2 separate regions of the Homo sapiens genome follow, and region 2 is linked to region 1. The links come from fine-mapping of genetic effects on gene expression. A gene starts in region 1. The other region holds a variant in brackets. All regions are shown on one strand. Distances are from middle to middle. Region 1 holds the start of LMNB1 (lamin B1). Region 2 overlaps LMNB1 (lamin B1).

Region 1 (11,212 bases):
CGTCTTAAATTGGAATTGCTTTAACTTCCAAAGCACATCTGGCCCCCAGGGTTTTACAGAAAAGATACGGGACCTGTATCACTGAAGGAAAATAAATGTCTGAATCCACAAAATCAGTTATTGAAGACTGATGTAAACACTTAACTTTCTGTTATATCTAGTTTTCCCGTATAGTTAACAGTGAAAATCTGAAACAAGTCAATTTCTCTGTACTTTTTGTTTAAAGTGTTGAGTGATGGCATTCATCATCATTTTTGGAAACTGTTCTCTCAAAAAAGCTTTCAGCAAAATATAATCAGTCTTGGACTGAATCAAAGTAACTGTACCTTACATATGAGGTCTGTTTTCTATGGATTCAGACACCACCTGCATGGAAACTGTTGCCAAATTCTCTTTAGACCAAGCATTTCCATGCTCTGCCTCTAAGGTATCTTGTTTGCTGAGGAACCAAAAAGAAACTAAGTAACCTGGAATCTATAATTCTCTCAAAGCTGTTTTCTTAATCTAAATCTACCTAAATGATGATTATACTTAATTACAAACACTCTAGTTCCAAATAAAAAATTAAATATAGGCCAGGCATGGTGGCTCACGCCTATAATCCCAGCACCTTGGGAGGCCGAGGTGGGTGGATCACCTGAGGTCAGGAGTTGGAGACCAGCCTGGCCAACACGGTGAAACCCCGTCTCTACTAAAAATACAAAATTAGCCGGGTGTGGTGGTGCACACCTGTAATCCCAGCTACTTGGGAGGCTGGGTCAAGAGCATCGCTTGAACCTGGGAGGCGGAGGTTGCAGTGAGCCAAGCTCCGTCTCAAAAAAAAAAGAAAGACATTAACAACCCTAGATGCCAGAAGACAATAGGGCAAAATAATACTTTCCAAGTTCTGGAAAAATGTTAACCTAGTATTCTATACCTAGCCCAAAGCTATTTTCAGACATACAGGACTCAGAAAGTTTACCTCCTGCCATCCTTTCTGAATAAATTACTTAAGGATGTTCTTCAACAAAATATGAAGAAACCAAGGAAAAGGAAAATACACCCAGGATGGAGTGCGGTGGTGTGATCTCAGCTCACTGCAACCTCCGCCTCCCCGGTTCAAGCAATGCCTCCTGCCTCAGCCTCCACAGTAACTGGGATTGCAGGCGTCCACTACCACACGCGGCTAATTTGTGTATTTTTAGTAGAGACGGGGTCTCGCCATGTTGGACAGGCTAGTCTTGAACTCCTGACTTCAGGTGATCCACCTGCCTAGGCCTCTCAAAGTGCTTTACAGGTGTGAGCCACCGTGCCTGGCCAGGAAGCTGTCTTTAATAAGTTACAGGACATCAGTACACAGCCTACCTTAAGCAAAGAGAACTCTAGGGAAGAAAGCAGATTCATGTGATAGATATTATGATTAAATATCTTCAAAAAGTCTGCAAACACACTGAGGGCAAATTTTTCTTAACAAGAAAAATGAAAAGCTATTGAGGAATAAATCCATATAAAAAAAGTCCTAATTCAAATAAGGAGCAAACTAAAATGTGGCATGTTTTGAGCAAATGATGGTATGTTGGGGGGAAAAGAAGAGTCATCTAATCCTGGCAATAGGAATATACATACAGTAGCACAGACTTAAGAAAAATATAATCCCAGAACACTACTAACCCTCAGAGAATAGGTACTGTCAACTCCTCAGACAGGCCTTCCTTAATCACACTAACCCTTCACTCCGCTTTATTTTTATTCCCTTAGCATCTGCTATTACCTAAATTGTATCACATGCATTATTTCATTGATTCTAATACACATTATTCTCATTTTTTAACCCCGCTGAAACCAGCATGCATTTTAGAATCGATACATTTACAACTACTGTCAGCCAGGTGGCAGCCTTGTTACTGTGTGAAAAACCTCCTGTGGCTAACTCCTGGAAAGATTACAAAAGCGCCAGCATCAAAATGCTTCACATCAGACAAAAGACAATCTTTCTTTACTTGCTGGGATATAGCTCCCCCACTACACTCTCAGCAACAAAGAACAGTAATTCATTTTTTTAAAAAAATCTTCATATCCTCTAACATAGAACGGTGACTGGTACGCAACAGATATTTGATCTGTGTTAATTTTTTTTTTTAGACGGAGTCTCACTCTGTCACCCAGGCTGGAGTGCAGTGGACCATCTGGCTCACTGCAGCCTCTGCCTCCTGGATATCAAGCGATTCTCCTGCCTCAGCCTCCCCAGTAGCTGGGATTACAGACGCCCGCCACCACGCCCGGATTTTTTTTCTTTTTTGAGATGGGGTCTCACTCTGTCGCCAGGCTGGGGTGCAATGGCGCAATCTCAGCTCACTGCAATATCCGCCTCCTGGGTTCAAGCGATTCTCCTGCCTCAGCCTCCCAAGTAGCTGAGACTACAGATGCATGCCACCACGTCTGGATAATTTTTTGTATTTTTAGTAGAGACGGGGTTTCACCTTGTTAGCCAGGATGGCCTCGATCTCCTGACCTCGTGATCCGCCCGCCTCGGCCTCCCAAAGTGCTGGGATTACAGGCGTGAGCCCCCGCGTCCGGCCAATTTTTGTATTTTTAGTAGAGACGGGGTTTCACCATATTGGTCAGGCTGGTCTCGAACTCCTGACCTCAAGTGATCCGCTCACCTCGCCTCCCAAAGCGCTGGGATTACAGGCGTGAGCCACCACGCCCGGCCCTGTTTGACATTTTAATATCTATGAAACCCATCATGATGGGTCCAACAGGATGGATCCTACACAGTTGGTCCTGATGTTTTTATTTTCTTAGTGGTACACATAATAATGGCAAGTCTTACAAGCAACGATATCTAAGATTTGAAGGAATTCAGTGGCAAAAAATTTGGAGGAACATAGAAATAATAGTGTGAGTTAACTGACTGCTCATTTTAAAAGATGAAACCAAGGCTTAGTAAATCCAAGAAAGGGAAATACAAGCTTAGTATTATTTTCGAGTTGTATAACTAAATATCCAAAGAAATAAAAACAAAAAGGGATAAATGTGATTGCCTCCGGAAAGAGGTAGTGCAGTTATCGTTTTTCGCTACAAACCAGTCTATACTATTTTATTCTTACCACGTGCACATGCTTTTTTATGAACCGAAAACATATGATAGGAGGGATAAGTAAAAATACACAAAATCTCAGAGACTTCGGACAGGGACATTCACGCAGATACAGACAGAAAGACATCCAGGGGCAAAGGGTGTCAAAGTGAGAATAAGGTACCTCCAGAAATTTCAGCTGGCAGTGCTAATGGCGACCATGAATTTCAGACCCAAATTTTGCAAATCTCTAAAGCATGACATCAACACTTGTTGCCTACTGATGACAGGCCATTTTGCTTATCAGAAAGTCAAAATAAGGCCAGCAAAGGTCTGCAAATGTATCCTTGTGCACTGGAATGAAAACTCGCACTCGCTTAGGTGAATTACAAACTCTCCTTCGCTCAAACACTCAGCATTTACACAGCACCCTGTCACCTGCCCTGGTCTACTATCTGCACAGTGGTCGACTAAGGGGTACTAAGCACAGTCTCTACCCGAAAGCCTGACTATACTACGAGGAGGCAAAAGCTGGGGACAGAGGGCCGCTGCCTGAGGGGTAGGAGAACCGCAATTCTAAGAACGGTAGCCGTGACATGCACAAACCCAGCTTTCCTTCCCTGCGCAGAACCACCCGAGGGACCGCACCATCCCCGCTGGGACAGGACACATTTCCCCAGAGAAAGCTAACCAGCTAGCAAACCTAACTTGCCCGGGGCTGGCTGGAGGCGCACGGATCAAGCTCCGCCTCTCTCTCCCGCCTAAAGCAGGCGTAGAATCTTCGCAAAACGTCACAGGGCCAAGACTGAGCGCGCCAAAGCGGGACCCACCCCCAGGAGACGCGGATGCTGCGGGAAGGTCCCTCCCCTTCCTCTCTCTGCCCGCGCGAAGCTCATTCATTCTAGAGGCGGGCTGCCAGTCCTCCCCGGCCGCCCATCCCGGCACTGCAAATCCGCTAGACGCTTTGTCTCGCGCCGGCCGGAAACTGGGGCGCGCACGCGAGCGCGCGCTCGCGCTCCAGCTCCCCGCACCTGGGGCCTGAGGGGCCGCCTCTCCGCGCCGGCTCCCCGGATTCGAGTGCGAAAGCGGGAGCTCCTTCTCGGCAGTCCCAGGCGCGCACTTACCACGTCCCAGCGGGTATCCAAAATCTAGAAATGGGCATCACGGCCCCCCAGCGCTACAGCTCGAGCCCCCTCCGCGACCCCTGCTCCGCTATGAACTCTAGATTCTTTCTCCTTTCCGGAGACCGAGACCCTGTTCCTTCAGAAGGACGCGTGCATCCTGGCCTCTGCTCCCTCCCCACGGCAGAACCCGGTGAGCTGGTCGCCGCGGTTGCGCCCCCGCCCCTCCTTGGCGCTAACGCGGCCGCCAGCTAGCACTCACTTGAGGAGCAGCTGGTCGTGTTCCGCCTTGCACTTGCCCAGCTCGATCTGCAGCTTGGCGCGCTCGCGGGCCGTGTCGTCGAGCGCGCGTCGCGCGTCGGCCAGCTCGGTCTCGTAGAGCGCCTTGAGGCCGGTGAGCTCACGGCCGCGCACCTCCTCGCGCTCCGTCACCTGCAGCTGCAGCGCGCTGTTCTCCGTCTCCAGGCTGCGCACCTTGTCGATGTACACCGCCAGCCGGTCATTGAGCTCGCGCAGCTCCTCCTTCTCCTGGAGCCGCGACAGGCGCGTGGGGCTCAGCGGCGTGGTGGGGCCGCCAGCGCGGCTGCCCATCCGCGGCGGCACGGGGGTCGCAGTCGCCATGGCGGGCGGCGGAGACAGCGGGGCGGCGAGGCCGCGAGCGGGACCGTGATAAGGAGGGGACGGCAGGGGGCGAAGCGGGGACCGAAGGCACAAACCGGCGACCTGCGCTCACGTCCAGACGCTGGCGTTTAGAGGAACGGAGAAGCACCTGGGATGGCGGGAGCTCGATTACAGCACAAAGGGCAAAGGCGCGCGGGGGGGAACTACGAATCAATCGATCGATCGCGAAATACCCTTTGTAAGAAAACACACACACCCACTCACACACGCACGCGGGAAAATGCAAGACGAGGGTGACTGGAGGCCCAGCAGGGTTCGCGCCGCCGCCGTCTCCTGCTCGCAGCACTTTGTTTCCTCTCAGGCTGCACGGAGCGGCGGGCGGGGGGAGGAGGGCCGGGAGGGGCGGGCTGGAGGCAAGCCGCGGGGGGCGGAGGTGGCGCGGGCCGCGGCGCCGCACTCCCCAACATGGCCGGCACGCCCCGGCGCCTCCACGTGACTACCATGGGCCAATGGGGAGCAGGCAGCGCGCTTCGGCGGTTCGGGGGCCGGGCCTGTAAATTTAAAATCTGGCCCTTGGGCAACCGTCAGCTCGGCCCTCCCGGCTGGGCGGTTCCCGGACCAGGCTCAGGGCTGTAAGGAAGGACGCCTGGGACTGCCCACCCGCGCGGCTCTGGGCCCAGGGCCCTCCCGCCGCCCCGCGGGGACCCCTTGGAGGGGCCGGGCCTGAGAAAGGCGGGAAGGAGCCCGGAGGTTTCCGGGACGGATCTGCGCCACCGCCCACACTCGGCGGTTCAGGGAAATTCAAATATAAACGTCCCTAAAAGCCACACGCGAAACTCAGAGTGTCCCCGGCCACCGCGGGCGTGGTAACCTTATCCCCCGCTCCGCTGGAGGGCTCGGGAAACGGCCTGGAGGCCGGGACGCTGTGGAATTACGTAATAGGCACTTGAGTCCGAGGTTCCAAATGCACGGCTTGCAGGTTCCAAGTACCAGCCTTTATTTTTCTCTCCGGTGGAAAACTGTATCAGGCAACTTCTTTCCATGAAAGTGAGATCTGTGCGTCTTGAAGCCGATAGATTATCACAGAAAAACCAGCAACCCTGATTTTAAATCATTTGCCAACAGTGTTAATGGGCGGTTCCTAATCCGTTTCTTAATTTAAGGGTTTGTAAAATCAAAAAACAGCTCAGAAATGATACGATTAACATATGACGGTGAGTAACTACGAGAGCAAGCTGTTTCATACTCCGTTAAAATCAGGTACATAAAAATCTGAACTTGTGAAAATTTAAGATGAAATAATTTTTTGCTTTTAAAAAGAGGCTCCCAAGATGTCACTGGCAGCTACTTCTATTAGAAAGCACATTCATCCCTTTGAAAAGTTCCTAATTTTTAGCTAACATTTATTGGGACTGAGTGCCAGCACCAGGCTTTTCATGGATTACCCATCCACACAATCTCCGTGTGATGTGGGAAACTGGATTGTTTCTATTTGAAAATTCATCCGGGCGGGCGCGGTGGCTCACGCCTATAATCCCAACACTTTGGGAGGCCGAGTGGGGGAGGATCACCTGAGCTCAGGAGTTCAAGACCAGCCTGACCAACATGGTGAAACCCCGTCTCTACAAAAATACAAAAATTAGCCGGGCATGATGGCGGGTGCCTGTAATCTCAGCTACTTGGAAGGCTGAGGTGGGAGAATCCCTTGAACCCGGAAAGGGGAAGTTGCAGTGAGCCGAGATGGCACCATTACACTCCAGCCTGGGTGACAGGGAGACCCCGTCTCAAAAAAGAAAGAAAGAAACCATCCATTTTATAGATTCACTGTCTGAAGGCTGCTCCGCAGGACTGCGTTTGACAGGTCCCAGGATTCTAATTGACTCGAGTCTGGCCCTTAGCTATACCCTAGATGACCACCTTACCACCTATTAGGAACGCTTCTGTAATTAATGGTTACTTACTTTTAAAATGGCAGAAATGGAGACCAGGATATTCTTTAACTGTTAATCAAGTCATGTACATAAGAATTAGTGAAGAGCACTGGGAGCTGCATATTCATCCCAGATGAATTTTTGGCACTCTGTGAATGATGACATTCTCCTTATTAATGGTTCTATTTCCTGTCCGGTTTCCTAAAATACTTCCTTGCTTTTTGGGGGGTGGGGGGGTGGGGGGGAGGATGGCAGGGAGACGGAGTCTTGCTCTGTCGCCCAGGCTGGAGTGCAATGGCACAATCTCAGCTCACTGCAACTTCCACCTCCCGGGTTCAAGCGATTCTCCTGCCTCAGCCTCCTGAGTAGCTGGGACCAACGCCACCATACCCGGCTAATTTTTTGTATTTTAGTAGAGACTGGGCTTCACCGTGTTGCCCAGGCTGGCCTCGAACTCCTGATCTCAGGCAATCCGCCCGCCTCGGCCTCCCAAAGTGCTAGAATTACAGGCGTGAGCCACCGCGCCTGGCCATGAAATACTTCCTTTCTTAACCTCATTGAGAAATAAAGAATCGAAAAGCTTAGACTTTAAGTATTCAAGTAATCTTAAAGGGAACTTTAAAATCTAAATTACTGATGAGAAAACCGGCCGGGTGTGGTGGCTCAGCCTGTAATCCCAGCACTTTGGGAGGCCGAGGTGGGCAGATCACTTGAGGTCGGGAGTTCCAGACCAGCCTGTCAACATAGTGAAACCCCGCCTCTACTGAAAATACAAAAATTAGCGGGGTGTGGTGGCGCGCGCCTGTAGTCCCAGCTACTCCGGAGGCTGAGGCAGGAGGCAGGAGAATCGCTTGAACCTCAGAGGCAGAGGTTGCAGTGAGCTGAGATTGCGACACTGCCTAGGCGTCAAAGCAAGACCCTATCTGCAAAAAAATAAAAAAAATTTTTTAAAGTTAAATAAAATAAATTACCGATGAGGAAATTAGACCAAAAGAAGGTGAGTGCTGGGTCCCAGGCTGTGGAACCAGGATTGGAATGTAAATCTGCTTGTTCTCACTTGGTTGTGAGACCCTTTCCACTACGACAGGTGATATAGTCAATCCATATGGTTTTATGGTTTTCATTCCTTGCTCCCCTTTACCTGTCTTTTAAAAATACTTGGTTGGGAGGCCGAGGCGGGCGGATCACGAGGTCAAGAGATGGAGACCATCCTGGCCAACATAGTGAAACCCCGTCTCTACTAAAACTACAAAAAAAAAAAAAAAAAAAAATAGCTGGGCGTGGTGGCACGTGCCTGTAGTCCCAGCTACTCGAGAGGCTGAGGCAGGCGAATGGCTTGAACCCGGGAAGCGGAGGTTGTCGTGAGCCGAGATCGCGCCACTGCACTCCAGCCTGGCGACAGAGCGAGACTCCGTCTCAAAAAAAAAAAAAAAAAATTGTCAGTTTTCTTTTAAAATTATTTCCTGTCCATTTTTTAAGTTTTAAGATTATATGTGATTCCAGCAATGATCTCTATTGCTCTCAACCCCATGAAGCTTTGTTTTTTGTTTTTGTTTTTGTTTTTTTTTTGAGACAGAGTTTCGTTCTTCTTGCCCAAGCTGGAGTGCAGTGGCGCGATGTCAGCTCACCACAACCTCCATCTCCTACCTCCTGGAGGGTTCAAGCGATTCTCCTACCTCAGCCTCCCGAGTAGCTGGGATTACAGGCCTGCGCCACCACACCGGGCTAATTTTGTATTTTTAGTAGAGACGAGGTTTCATCATGTTGGTCGGGCTGGTCTCCAACTCCTGACCTCGTGATCCACCAGCCTCAGCCTCCCAAAATGCTGGGATCGTAGGCGTGAGCCACCACGCCCGGCCTGAAGCTTTCTATTGATAGAGTTCCTCAATTTTCAGATTATTTGAAGAGGCTCACATTATACATATCCTATTATATAAAACAACTTTCTTGGAGTCAGACAATTGAGGATGTGCTACTGATAGCTGTATAACTTTAAGAAAATTATTCCGTGATTTCCTTCAAGGAAAATGGAAATGGAGCCGGGCACAGTGGCTCACGCCTGTAATCTCAGCACTTTGGGAGGCTGAGGCGGGCGGATGACGAGGTGAAGAGATCGAGACCATCCTGGCCAACACGGCGAAACCCCGTCTCTACTAAACATACAAAAAAGTTAACTGGGCATGGTGGTGCGCGCCTGTAGTCCCAGCTACTCAGGAGGCTGAGGCAGGAGAATCTCTTGAACCCAGGAGACAGAGGTTGCAGTGAGCCGAGATCGCGTCACTGCACTCCAGCCTGGCGACACAGCGAGACTCCGTCTCAAAAACAAAACAAAACAAAAAAACACATGCCGGGCTCGGTGGCTCATGCCTGTAATCCCAGCACTTTGGGAGGCTAAGGCAGGTGGATCACCTGAGGTCGGGAGTTCGAGACCAGCCTGACCAACATGGAGAAACCCCGTCTCTACTAAAAATACAAAATTAGCTGGGCGTGGTGGCGCATGCCTGTAATCCCAGCTACTTGGGAGGCTGAGGCAGGAGAATCGCTTGAACCTGGGAGGCAGAGGTTATGGTGAGCTGAGATGGCACCATTGCACTCTAGCCTGGGCAACAAGAGCAAAACTGCGTCTCAAAAAAAGAGAAGAAAGAAAAAGAAAATGGGGGCCGGACGCGGTGGCTCACGCCTGTAATCCCAGCACCTTGGGAGGCCGAGGTGGGCAGATCACCTGAGGTCGGGAGTTCGAGACCAGTCTGACCAATATGGAGAAACCCCATCTCTACTAAAAATATAAAATTAGCCGGGCGTGGTGGCACATGCCTGTAATCCCAGCTACTCAGGAGGCTGAGGCAGAAGAATCGCTTAAACCTGGGAGGTGGAGGTTGCAGTGAGCCAAGATCGTGCCATTGCACTCCAGGCTGGGCAACAAGAGCGAAACTCGTCTCATAAAAAAAAAAAAAAAAAAAGAAAGAAAGAAAGAAAAGAAAATGGGAATGGTTTTTACCTTGCACAGGATTTGTAAAGATTTAATAAAACAATATATGCAGTGTGTTAGACATACAACATGTGAAGGCTAAATAGTAACGCTTACTAATAGTAATCATGTGTTTCCATTGAAAATCAAGGAAAAAGAATGGAAAATCTTGAAGCCTTAGAATTAGGTAATTGTGGCCGGGCATAGTGGCTCACCCTTGTAATCCCAGCACTTTGGGAGGACAAGGTGGGTGGATCACTTGAGGCCAGGAGTTTGAGACCAACCTGGCCAACACAGTGAAACTCCATCTCTACTAAAAATACAAAAAATTAGCCAGGCATGGTGGTGGGCACCTGTAATCGCAGCTACTCGGGAGGCTGAGGCAGGAGAATCGTTTGATCCTGGGAGGCAGAGGTTGCAGTGGGCCGAGATAGTGCCATTGTATTCCAGCCTGGGCAACAAGAGTGAAACTCCGTAGCAAAAAAAAAAACAAAAACAAAACACACACACACAAGAATTAGACAATTGTGCACATTTTTGGTCAGCTACTTTACAAAATATACACTTTCCTTATTCTCTAGGTGTTTCCCATACCTAATGCTAAACCTGGATTATGGCCTTCTGTTCTCTCATACTAAGTTAGTCAAGCTCCCTTTATTCAAGTAATTCCTGAAATCTTATCCCTCCAAAGTTTTCCCCAATGAATTAGAAGTAACAAATTTGTAAATTTGGTGACAACACTTCTGCATTTACTAGGATAGTGGTGATTTCAAATATCCTGCCTTTGTTTTTACTATACACCTCCATTTACTTGTCAGGGCACATGTCCTGATTATTGGTTAGACCATATATATCCCCACCAAGTCTCAAAATGCCATGCCATCATTTTCCCTTGTCCATACTCCTCCTACAACTACCTCACTACATGTAAAGAACTTAATTGACATTTGTCCTACTTTATGTATGTCATTTGGATCTGGGACAGAAAAATATATGATACATAAGACATCTGGGGAGAAGGGGCCATACTAGGATGGGGTGAGAAGGAATGGGGAGGAGAGACTGAAAGCTTAGCAGTAACCCACTTTTGTCTTGGGAGAGGGGAGTGACAGCTGGCAGATAAATTGAGTATACATTGCAAACAAATAGGATAGCTAGGACTGCGACACAAAATGAAATAAAAAATTGCTAAATGGTATCTCTTCAATATATGTTTGCTGAATGGATGAATGAAGAAATAACTGAATACATGATCTTCTCCTGGAACAGATTGTTCGACTAAATATATTTTACAAACTTGATACTTTTTCCAGTTATTATAAAAGTGTAGACATCATGTTTTAGAAGGTTGAGTGACTATCCAGAATGTCTTCCAAGTCTGATTTTGATTTTCATGTTAAAAAAAAAAGCTTAGGAGTTTTAAAGTATATTTACCATCTTTAAGAGGATTCAGGTAGCACAGCCACCTGAAGTTTTTATACTGCTCAAACTTGTTTTCCTTTTTTTTTTCTTT
Region 2 (11,212 bases), 35 kb before region 1:
GGCCAAGAAGCAGTGATACCCAGTACCAGTGAGCACACTCAGTGCCCAGATCTTAATTTCTATATACCATTCTCCAATAACAAGAACCAGGGCTCCTTGGAGACTGGATAATTCTAGGACTGGGGCAGGGAAAATGCAAGATGAGCCTAGAGCATGTTATAGTACCAGAAAGCAACAAAGTGCTCAAAAAACAATGGGACATAGTGGCCAAGCTGACAGAACTCCCAGTGGCCAAATATGAAACAATTTAAGCCAAAAAAGTAAATACTGCAGTATTAGCTTACAACCCAAAGTATAAAGTAAATGCCCATGGTCCATACGGACACAAACAAACAAACAAACAAACCAAACAAACGGGGAATGGATAAATCGTTACAGAAGAATGCCATTTAATAAATGTAGATTTCCCTCCAGAATGTGGCGCTTAAGTCCTGCCCTGTCCTTCACCCTTGAGGGTAGGCTGGACTTAGTGAGCTGTTTTCCATGAACAGTGTATGGGAACGGAAAAATAGTAGCGCTGTTGACAGTGGAGAAACCTGACAAACACTATCTTAAACCAAACACCACCAGTGATGTCATGTGGTTATCACATACGTGCAATCCCTGATACGATGTGACAAAACGGGCACTTAAAACCCAAAACCCCAGTCTAATCACGTGAAAAGCACCGGACAAATCCAAATTGGGGGACAGTCTACAGGATACCTGGACAATCTTACTCAAGACTCAAGCTCATAAAAAACAAGGAAAGCCCAAGAAACTGTCACAGACCAGGGGAGGCATGTGGCACCTGGAACAGAAAGAAGATAACAGAAGAACTGGTGAAATCCAAATAGTCTGGAGACGAGTTCACAGTAATATACCAATGTCAGTTTCTTAGTTTTGACAAATATACTATGGTAACATAAGATGCTAACAACAGGGGAAAATGGGTGAGAGGAAAACAAGAACTGTCTATAGTACTTTGCCAACTTTTCTGTAAATCTAAAATTATGCCAAAATAACAAGGTTATTTAAAAAATAATCAAGAGTCACTGTAAACCTATTTGGGGGCAGAGGGGGTGCCTGGTTCACACGCACACACAAAAATATATTTTTAAAGAAAAAAAATTGACCAATCAATTAATTAAATTCCAGAGTAGTATATGACTTGACATGCTATTTAGACAGGCACTCCTCTTAAGATGGATATTACAAAGGTAGTCCCTGAACCTCAGAGAACTTGCATTTAACTGCGTTTGCAAAAATCATGCTATAAATGGAGAAATCCATTTCCCCGCTACCATGTTCCTTGTATTTTCTTTTTCTCCAAAAGAAAAAAAAAAAGTCATGTAAGTTCAAAATGCCTCCCTTTATTTCATATATCAGAGGTAGAAGATATATTTGAATGGGCAAAAAGGTAGAATCTAAAGGAGAGTTGATGAGAGATATAAACTACCCAAGATTCACAGATAACCTGAGCCGAGATTTATAAACCCAATGATGTCTCTGTTTGACTGCCTTTGATGTTGTAGAGCTCTTTAAGAGGGAAAAATCAAAATCTAGGTATAAAAATTTTAAAGTTACTCTGAATCATTCTGTATTTTAAATAGAAATATTTAAATTCTATTTTCAGTAGCTGCACTTACACCTGTGTAGTGAAATATAAGGAACACAGTATGAGAAGTTAGACCTAGATTCTCCTTTCTAATTCTGCCATTGAAACTACCTATGAGGCTATAAGCAAGCTGTAACTAATCTCACTAAACCAGTTTCCACATAAGGAAAATGAAGAGCTCTAACTATCTAGATGATCTCTCAGATCTTGCCACTAACCCTAAATTTTATGACTTCTGATGATCTTGGGGTTTTTAAATATTTTATAGTATGTAATGTAATTGTACTGGTTTATTAAGGTCTAGCTGCAACCAAAGTCTCCAGAATCTGGGTGTTAGAAAAACAAAAGTTAGAGGTGTTTTTAAGTACCATACTGTACTCTTCTCTAAGGCAAGCAGACTCTAACCAACCAATTCATTTGGTCCCAAGTCAAAAATCTAGAGATGCTATAAGCAATGTAAAATTTCTAATTCCAAAACATAACACTGCTACCATCTATATATTATTTAAATATATCTTGTAAAACCAGTATTTTAAAGCCATGTCAATTTTAAGTAAAATTTAAGAAGTACTTCACTAACCTGAGTTATTTAACCAAAAGGAAATTCTTATGGCCTAATAGGCAGCATGATGAAACTGATATGACTCAGCAACAAACACTATTAAGACAAACAATAGGAAAATATTCAAAAAGATAACATTTTTATTTTTGATGATTTTTCTAAGGCTAAAATTTATCAACTAATAAAAATATTCCTCAAAATATACTGTTTACCATAAAGTCTGTTACCAATAATGAACAGAGGAAAGATTCACCCCAGAGAAATTAAAAACTATTTTGGCTAAAGGGATTGCTCGTCTCCTATCTGCTAAGGAGTTAGCTCCTGGAAACCCCCAGTGCACTGCCTAACATTACTTAAAAACCACTAAGATAAGGTTAACAAAAAAAACTTGCAGCCAGGCACAGTGGCTTACACCTGTAATCCCAGCATTTAAGGCAGCAGCTCACGCCTGTAATCCCTTCCATTTTGGGAGGCCAAGGTAGGCAGAGTACCTGAAGTCAGGAGTTTGAAACCAACCTGGCTAACATGGTGCACCCCATTTCTACTAAAAATACAAAGAATTAGCTGGGCGTGGTAGCGCGTGCCTGTAATCCCAGCTACTCAGGAGGCTGAGGCAGGAGAATCACTTGAACCTGGGAAGCAGAAGTTGCAGTGAGCTGAGATAGTGCCATTGCACTCCAGCTTGGGCAACAAAAGCAAAATTCTGTCTCAAAAAAAAAAAAAAACCAACTTGCAAAAATGGGAATTCAATTAACAGGGAAACAGCCTTGAACCTAGGTTAGAACACATAGCTACTAAGTTTCAGAGCCCACTACTACTTATTAATAACAGTCTCCTCATCCAAAGCACAGTGAAGATCAACCTCAAGAGAAGATCTGTACTAAGTAAATCAAATGGATTAGGCAGCAGCCAAAAAAATAATAATACAGTAGGAAAAAATAAAATTGAGGGATAGACAGTAACTAGTAGACAACTTACTATTAGTAAATGGAAAAGAGTAGTAAATGCCAACTCAGTACAAGAACAGAGAGGCCCATTTTTGGAAAAGTACCTGTTAAGACAGTTGATATAGGCCAGGTGCAGTGGCTCACGCCTATAATCCCAACACTTTGGGAGGCTGAGGCGGGCGGATCACCTAAGGTCAGGAGTTCAAGACCGGCCTGACCAACATGGAGAAACCCTGTCTCTACCAAAAATACAAAATTAGCAGGGTGTGGTGGTGCATGCCGGTAATCCCAGCTACTAGGGAAGCTAAGGCAGGGGAATTGCTTAAACCTGGGAGGCGGAGGTTGCAGTGAGCCGAGATTGCGCCATTGCACTACAGCCTGGGCAACAAGAACGAAATTCTGTCTCAGAAGAAAAAAAAACAACAAGAAAAACAAAGACAGTGATACAGTCTGTGTGTTTGTGTTCCCACAAATTTCATGTTTAAATCCTAACCCTCAAGGTGATGATATTAAGAGGTAGGGCCTTTGAGTGGTAATTAGATCATGAGAGGAAAGCCCTAGTGAATGGGATTCATGCCCTTATAATATAGGGCCAAGGGTGCTCATTCACCCTTTAACCATGTGAGGACACAGCAAGAAGGCACCATCTATAAATCGGGGAACAGCCCTCACCAGGCAGATATCCAATCTGCCAGTGCCTTGATCTTGGACTTCCCAGCCTCCAAAACTGTGAGAAATAATTTCTGACATATCTGTTGTTTATAAGCTACCAAGTCAATAGTAGTTTGTTATAGCAGCCCAAAAGGACTAAGACAGATGGTGCAATGGAAAAAAAGATTATCTGTTAAATTTCTAAAAGTAAATCTTCTTTGAAGAAAATGAGTTATAAAAGGAAAAACTGGGAAGGAGTAGAGAAACCCATTTATCAGTCTGCAGCCTCTGGGCAACGGGCAAATCATTAAACTCACCTAGATCTGTGGTTACATGGAATGAACTCAGAGGTGCTTCCAGCTCTGCTATTAAATGAAAATCTTCAAAACACTATCAGCACAAAATAGGTTTAAAATAATTTAAAAATTTGTGCCGTAAGTAACAAAGCACATGATAGACAGTGTAAAAGCCCCTGTGTTAACTAAATTATTTTATATCACCCCATTTTATGGGACTCATTTTCTGCTTTATTTCTAAGTTCCTGCAACAGAGGTCATCAGTTTTATAATTAGAAAAATATTTTACTAAAAATGGTAAAAAGAAAAAGGAAGGAAGAAAAGCCCAATCAAGAGTAAAATAGGCTGGGCACGGTGGCTCACGCCTGTAATCCCAGCACTCTGGGAAGCCGAGGCGGGTGGATCATGAGGTCAGGAGATCGAGACCATCCTGGCTAACACGGTGAAACCCCGTCTCTACTAAAAATACAAAAATTAGCCGGGCGTGGTGGCACGCACTTGTAGTCCCAGCTACTTGGGAGGCTGAGGCAGGAGAATGGCGTGAACCCGGGAGGCGGAGCTCACAGTGAGCCGAGATCGTACCACTGCACTCCAGCCTGGGCGACAGAGTGAGACTCCATCTCAAAAAGAAAAAAAAAAAAAAAAAAAAAAAAGTAAAATAAAGTTTATTCTCATGTGGAAAATTCAAAACAAGATTTCCTCCCTTGAGGAAAATAGAAGCGGAAGTTATTTCCAAAATAATTAAGGTGACGAGTTAATTGCTGAATCATTCTGAATGCAGTATATGGAGTATATGTACTTTGTGTCCACACTGACATCACCCTAGGCTAAAACTGATCTGAAGTAGTGTCCATGCCTGCTTAAGCAGCACCTGAAGCACACCATCACACCCTGATAGGCAGCCAGTCAACACAGCCGGCAATAATGCCATTTGTCACTTAGGCGTACCAACGAATGAATGAGTCACTAAATTCTTATCGGAATATGCAAATTAAAGCTACTTTCCTGGATCCTAATTGTTATATACTTTAAGCACTAAAGAATTTGTCTAGAAACACAAAGCATTCACCACCCACAAAGAATTTTTGCATGTTTTTCTTCATTTTGGTTTTCAAATGATATAAAAAAGGAAGGTGTTGAGAATAACTCTGTAGAGATGAAGCTGTTAGACAGGTCGGAAGATCCGGGTCCTAGGGTAAGTACAGTGAATAAACTAGCAGGCTCCTTCCTCAAGGGCAAGTCCCTTAGCTCTGTGTAATCTACTAATTAGGAACAATAGTATCTGCTCACAGGATGTTTATGCAATGCAAAATGAACGAATCTAGAAAAGTACTGTGAAGACGAAAGCACAGGATGACACCATCCTCTGTAACAAACAGAGGGAGGAGTGACATCAGCCCAAGCAAAGCAGGTAGGTGCCCGTGGTGAAGGTAGCCTTCAAGTCTAACTTCTTACAGAAAGATGATTATTTACCTCTTTCTGTAGATTAGAAAGCTGGGATGAAAGGCTCTCAATTCTCATGCGGCTTTCCATCAGTTCTTCCCTGGCACTGTTGACAGTAGAAGTATTCATCTCTGATGACAGTCTGGCATTCTCAAGCTAAAAGAAGAAGCAAAGCATAGTCAGTCTTATCTAGAACTGAAACAAAAAAGGAAGCATGATTCACCTCAAGGCATTTCAAACCTAAGTCCTGCTGGTAAC[T/C]GGTAGATGAAACACAGGAAAAGCATCATGAAGTTTGCTGATATGGTGTGAATGATGGTAATTCTGTGTGACTTTTAGAGTCACTTCCTAAATAATGAGCTTTAAGAATGCTAATATACCTAGGCCTTTACCCAAAGCTTATTACTTCAATATTTCATCTATTAAACCTTTAATGTCTAAGATAACACTGATAATAAGAAGACTGGGCAATAGCAACTTGACTGTGGTGGTGTCTGTAAGAAAAGAAACATCACATATCCCTAACCCACCAAATCCAATACAGAATGTAAACCAACAAGCAGAAAATACTAGTTTATAGATTCGTTCAAACCAGATAGAAACACTTCCTTTCAGAAGCAAAAAAAACTCCTTGAGTAAAATACAAATCCCATAACACTATTGTGTATGTGTGTCTCAGGGACATGCTCCTGTGTCTCCTCCCTGGCTCCCTGTGAGGCCACAGTCTGTGACGGATCCTTACTTTAGCTCCTTCACTGTATAGCTCAATGTGTGATATTAGATAAATGTTATACAACTGAAGTTACTGCTTATAATAAGATCTTTCACTTTCACTAACTGCTACTTCATACAATAGATAAAAAGCAACATGAACAGTTTAAAGCCATGCAATGAAAATTTTCAATAACTCTGTGACTCTAATATTCTAAGTCAACCACAAAAAAGTCTTTTTAATCAAATCATGTAACATTTAAAACACAAGGCAAAATCATTTACCAGGGAAAGCCTGTACTAGTTGGTGATTTTTATGAATTCTTGTAAGGTCAGCTAATATAAGTGGGAAGTTTCTACAATATTTTTTTAAGTGAATAATAGTGACAGAAGAAGAAATAGCAGAGACTTTCCATTTGGCCCTTATGCAAAAAAGCCGGAAGTGTGGTAGTCACAATCTATGCACAATGATGACATGAAAGTGAGATCTAATGCAGTCTGACATTCATTCATTACTAAATGGATGTTTATGTAGGACAGCATGATCAGTACTTGTTATTGGAAGAAAGTTATTTCACATGGTTTGGGTTCAACTACTATGGCATAGTACGAATGATCAATGGGACAAAAAGACAAAACCTAACCTCTAATAAAATTGCAACAACCCTACATTCTTCTAGTAATTTTTAATAACATTTAGTTTATAGAAAACTGCACTTTTTTGAAAAAATCAATTTTCTATATATTTCATGGAGACTAGGGGAATCATTTTTAAAAACTAGAACAAAATAAACATAAAGCCATGTTCATCATGGGAATTGTGAAGTAATGATTTTAAGTGTTCAAAAGAATCTTCTGAAGAGAGCTCACTTTGGCATGGTAAGTCTGCTCCAGCTCCTCCTTATACAGCCTCACTTGGGCATCATGTTGCTCTCTCATCTCATGAAGGGCTTGCGCCAGCTTGTACTCATACTCAATTTGACGCCCAGAATCCACCTCTACCAAGCGCGTTTCATGCTTCCTTCTGGTCTCGTTAATCTCCTGGGGAAAAAACAAAAAGCATAAAGCCAAGCTACTTACCATGGCTGCATTGGTACACATCTGAGTGACATCACAGCCATCTGAAGTTTTACACACGAACTTCCTCCTGTTTGTCCTCAGGCGGTCATGTGAATAAACACTTTTTTGCCTCTTAGTTTTCAGTTGAGGTTTTTGAAATGGAACTAATGACAGAAGTGGTAGCATCTCAAGCCTTAGGAACTTTCTATTCCTTTTCAGGAGCATAGCTATTTATTTTTCTGAAGCCAAGGAAAGGCCTGGATGGCCTACTAAAACTATCTGCAATCAAGGATTTATACACAGTATACTATACTAAACACTAAGCAAAAATTATTTTTCTGAATTGTTTCATTGATAATCTTAAGAACATCTCTGAAAAAACAGCACATGGAAAGTTAAACTTAACAGTTGTGATAAATTCATGTAAAGATTTATGTGAAATGAAACTATTTTCTTTTCTTTTCTTTTCTTTTCTGAGATAGAGTATCACTCTGTCGCCCAGGCTGTTGTGCAATGGTATGATCTCAGCTCACTACAACCTCCGCCTCCCGGGTTCAAGCAATTCTCCTGCATCAGCCTCCCTAGTAACTGGGATTACAGGCACATACCACCATGCCCAGCTAATTTTTGTATTTTTAGTAGAGATGAGATTTCCCCATGTTGGCCAGACTGGTCTCAAACTCCTGACCTCAGGTGATCCATCTGCCTCAGCCACTCAAGTTGCTGGGATTACAGGTGTGAACCACCTTGCCCAGCCATAAAACCATTTTCTTAGACATAATAATAGGCAGCACAAGCTAATTTACATGACTTCTTTAAAAGCCGGTATTAAGCTATCATTATCAAGTGACACAGGATCTTATTAACAATATTAGTTGACTAACTCAAATATTTATGAAAAATTTACCATTGAAGAATAGAAGTAGTTGTCATGATCCTTTCCTTTACTCTGTTTTAAGGAAGTGTCTAAATAAAATTAGAATGGAAGGCTGGGCGCGGTGGCTCACGCCTGTAATCCTAGCACTTTGGGAGGCCAAGGCAATCAGATCACCTGAGGTGAGGAGTTCAAGACCAGCCTGGCCAATATGGTAAAACCCTGTCTCTACTAAAATACAAAAATTAGTCAGCCATGATGGAGGGTGCCTGTAATCCCAGCTACTCAGGAGGCTGAGATGGGAGAATCACTTGAACCTGGGAGACGGTGGTTGCAGTGAGCCAAGATCGCACCACTGCATTCCAGCCTGGGCAGCTGAGCTGGACTCCGTCTCAAAAAAAAAAAAATAATAATTAGAATGGTAATATCTGAAGAAGCCACAAGAGGGAAGTATAACCCACCAAAGTTGCTGTTTGTGTATATTAGCGCATGTATTTTCCTTTGCATTTCTTCATCTTTCTCTTAACTACTACACAGGAGCATGCACTTGACAAAATCTGAAAAATCAGAAAAATCAGGAGGATTCTGCTATCACCTTCCCAGAGATCACATCTATTTCATGAAGCAAATAATACCTAAATCACAAAAATACTGAAGAGTGACTGCTAATGGTTTGTTCTTTGTCTACCTCCTCCTTCCTCTTTCGTCTTTCTCCTTCCTTTTTTCCCCCAACTGTTCATAATAAGGAAGTTAGATATTATTACTGAATATATATCATGAATGTAAAAAAAAAAAGTTAAGGCCAGCGTAGTGGCTCACACCTGTAATCCCAGCACTTTGGGAGGCTGAGGCGAGTGGCTCACCTGAGGCCAGGAGTTTTAGACCAGCCTGGCCAACATGGTATTACTTAGTAAAAAGTAAGGAAAAAAAAAAAAAGTTAGCCAGTTGTGAGGGTGTGAACCTGTAATCCCAGCTACTCGTGAGGCTGAGGCACAAGAATCATTTGAATCCAGGAGGCACAGGTTGCAGTGAGCCAAGACCGTACCACTGCACACCAGCCTGGGCAACAGAGTGAGACTCTGTCTCACACAAAAAAATTTTTTTTAAAGTAAAAAAGGCCAGGTGCGGTGGCTCACAACTATAATCCCAGCACTTTGGGAGGCCGAGGCAGATGGAGCACTTGAGTTCAGGAGTTCGAGACCAGCCTGGCCAATGTGGTGAAACCCTGTCTCTACTAAAAATACAAAACTTAGCCGGGCATGGTGGCACATGCCTGTAGACCCAGTTACTCCAGAGGCTGAAGCAGAAGAATCGCTTGAACCCAGGAGGTGGAGGTTGCAGTGAGCCAAGATCGTACTACTGCACTCCAGCCTGGGCGAGAGAGCAGGACTCTGTCTCCAAAAAGAGTTAAAAAAAACAAAAACAAAAACAAAACTGAAGAGGACTATCTTAACATCCATTCTCAAAAAGGCAAAGGCCAAAAATTCAAAGATGCTATGCACTCTAAAAATATTAAATTACTTTTTACTGATGCTATTTTTTATATAGAACCAGTGACCTTACAAAGAAAAAAAACCCTACTCCTGGTTGTCTACACACAACATCAGAAATAAGTAATGATAAATCACAATTTTTACAAAACAAAACAAAAATGTAAGTCAACCTCATATCAAAATATCTGCTTTAACAAAGCAACACTTAGTAACAATTATATGACAGCACTTGCTACAGTATCCAAAGAGTTTTCACACACAGTATTCCACTTTGATCCTTACCACTCATTGAAGAAAAAAATAGCAGTATTAGTATTTCATTTTAAATAAGAAACTGACACTAAGAGTTGTCCAAGGTCTGACTGCTTGTCTGGTGCACCTTGCACTAATATCTATTTTGTTTAAAGCCTGTAATTTTAAAAAATAATCAGATTTCTATTATTTTTCCTCCAACTAAAAAACTGGTTTGCTAACTGCTACAATGAATTCCTATTTGCACTGTTTTCAAAATTACACTACTTCTAAAAACATTAAGCCTAGCACATTAACAGCATGTTCTCCCCCATGAGTTGATTTCAACCCTCTACAATTTTCATGAAATATACATTCCCCTTTCCTCAATTTTATTACTTCCTTTGTTTGACAACGGTTTTGCCCCTGCCCCTTGACCACAGCAGTTAAGGCTTATAAGTGATATTTTAAGATTTCCACATGAGTGAGCCGGGCACGGTGGCTCACGCCTGTAATCCCAGCACTTTGGGAGGCTGAGGCGGGCCAATCACAAGGTCAGGAGATTGAGACCATCCTGGCTAACACGGTGGAACCTCGTCTCTATTAAAAATACAAAAAATTAGCAGGGCGTGGGTGCATGCGCCTGTAGTCCCAGCTACTAGGGGGGCTAAGGCAGGAGAATAGCTTGAACCCAGGAGGCAGAGGTTGCAGTGAGCCAAGATCATGCCACTGCATTCCAGCCTGGGCGACAGAGCGGGTCTCGTGTCTCAAAAAAAAAAAAATTTACACGCCTATAAATGCTGTGAGTAGCCGCATTTCCAGATGTGAGCCATAGGAGAAGGCCAAAGTGATGGTATGTAACCTCTGTGATTAGGTTATAGAAGACAATCTGGCTTCTGCCTTGGTAGCTGGTAGCATGTATTCATGTTCTCGTTGTGTTTCTTTCTCTCTCTCTCTCTCTTTCTCATCACTGACCCTTAGGGGGGCCATATCATGAGCAGCCCTATGAAGAAGACCATGAGGTGAGGAACTGACACGTCCTGCCCACAGCCCTGTGAAAGAGCTCAGATGCCATTCCTCCAGCCCAGGTTAAAAGCTGTACTGCAACCTCATGGGACCAAGAAACAGAACCACCCAGTTTAGCAGCTCTGAATTCTGACCTTCAGGAACTAAGAAATTAATACAAGTCTGTGGTTTTAGGTTGATGAACTTTGGAAGTAATTTGTTAGGCAGGAATAGATAACTAATGCTTAAACATGTTGACAGTAATTAGCTGCTGTGACCAAGCCTTTATAAGTTAAGATGAAGTGAGGCCGGATGTGGTGGCTCACACCTGTAATCCCAGCACTTT

Evidence for each region.
Region 2: its variant is fine-mapped to the expression of LMNB1 in whole blood (INTERVAL, PIP 0.99).

Annotation. Positions count from the first base shown.
Region 1 is chr5:126,771,097-126,782,308 of GRCh38, reverse strand. LMNB1 (lamin B1) reads right to left here and starts at 5,173. Exons shown (of 11, transcript NM_005573.4): 1 at 4,442-5,173. The coding sequence starts at 4,800. LMNB1-DT (LMNB1 divergent transcript) reads left to right here and starts at 5,823. Exons shown (of 4, transcript NR_134485.1): 1 at 5,823-6,014. RefSeq lists enhancers at 2,034-2,123, 2,134-2,203, 3,507-3,596, 4,612-5,412 and silencers at 4,087-4,196, 4,407-4,456, 4,767-4,846, 5,047-5,696, 6,347-6,396.
Region 2 is chr5:126,806,213-126,817,424 of GRCh38, reverse strand. It overlaps LMNB1 (lamin B1), which reads right to left. Exons shown (of 11, transcript NM_005573.4): 4 at 7,075-7,245; 5 at 5,527-5,652. Among named protein-coding and RNA genes, the nearest start is that of LMNB1, 35 kb to the right of the region's middle. The variant T/C (reference allele first, on the strand shown) is at 5,755.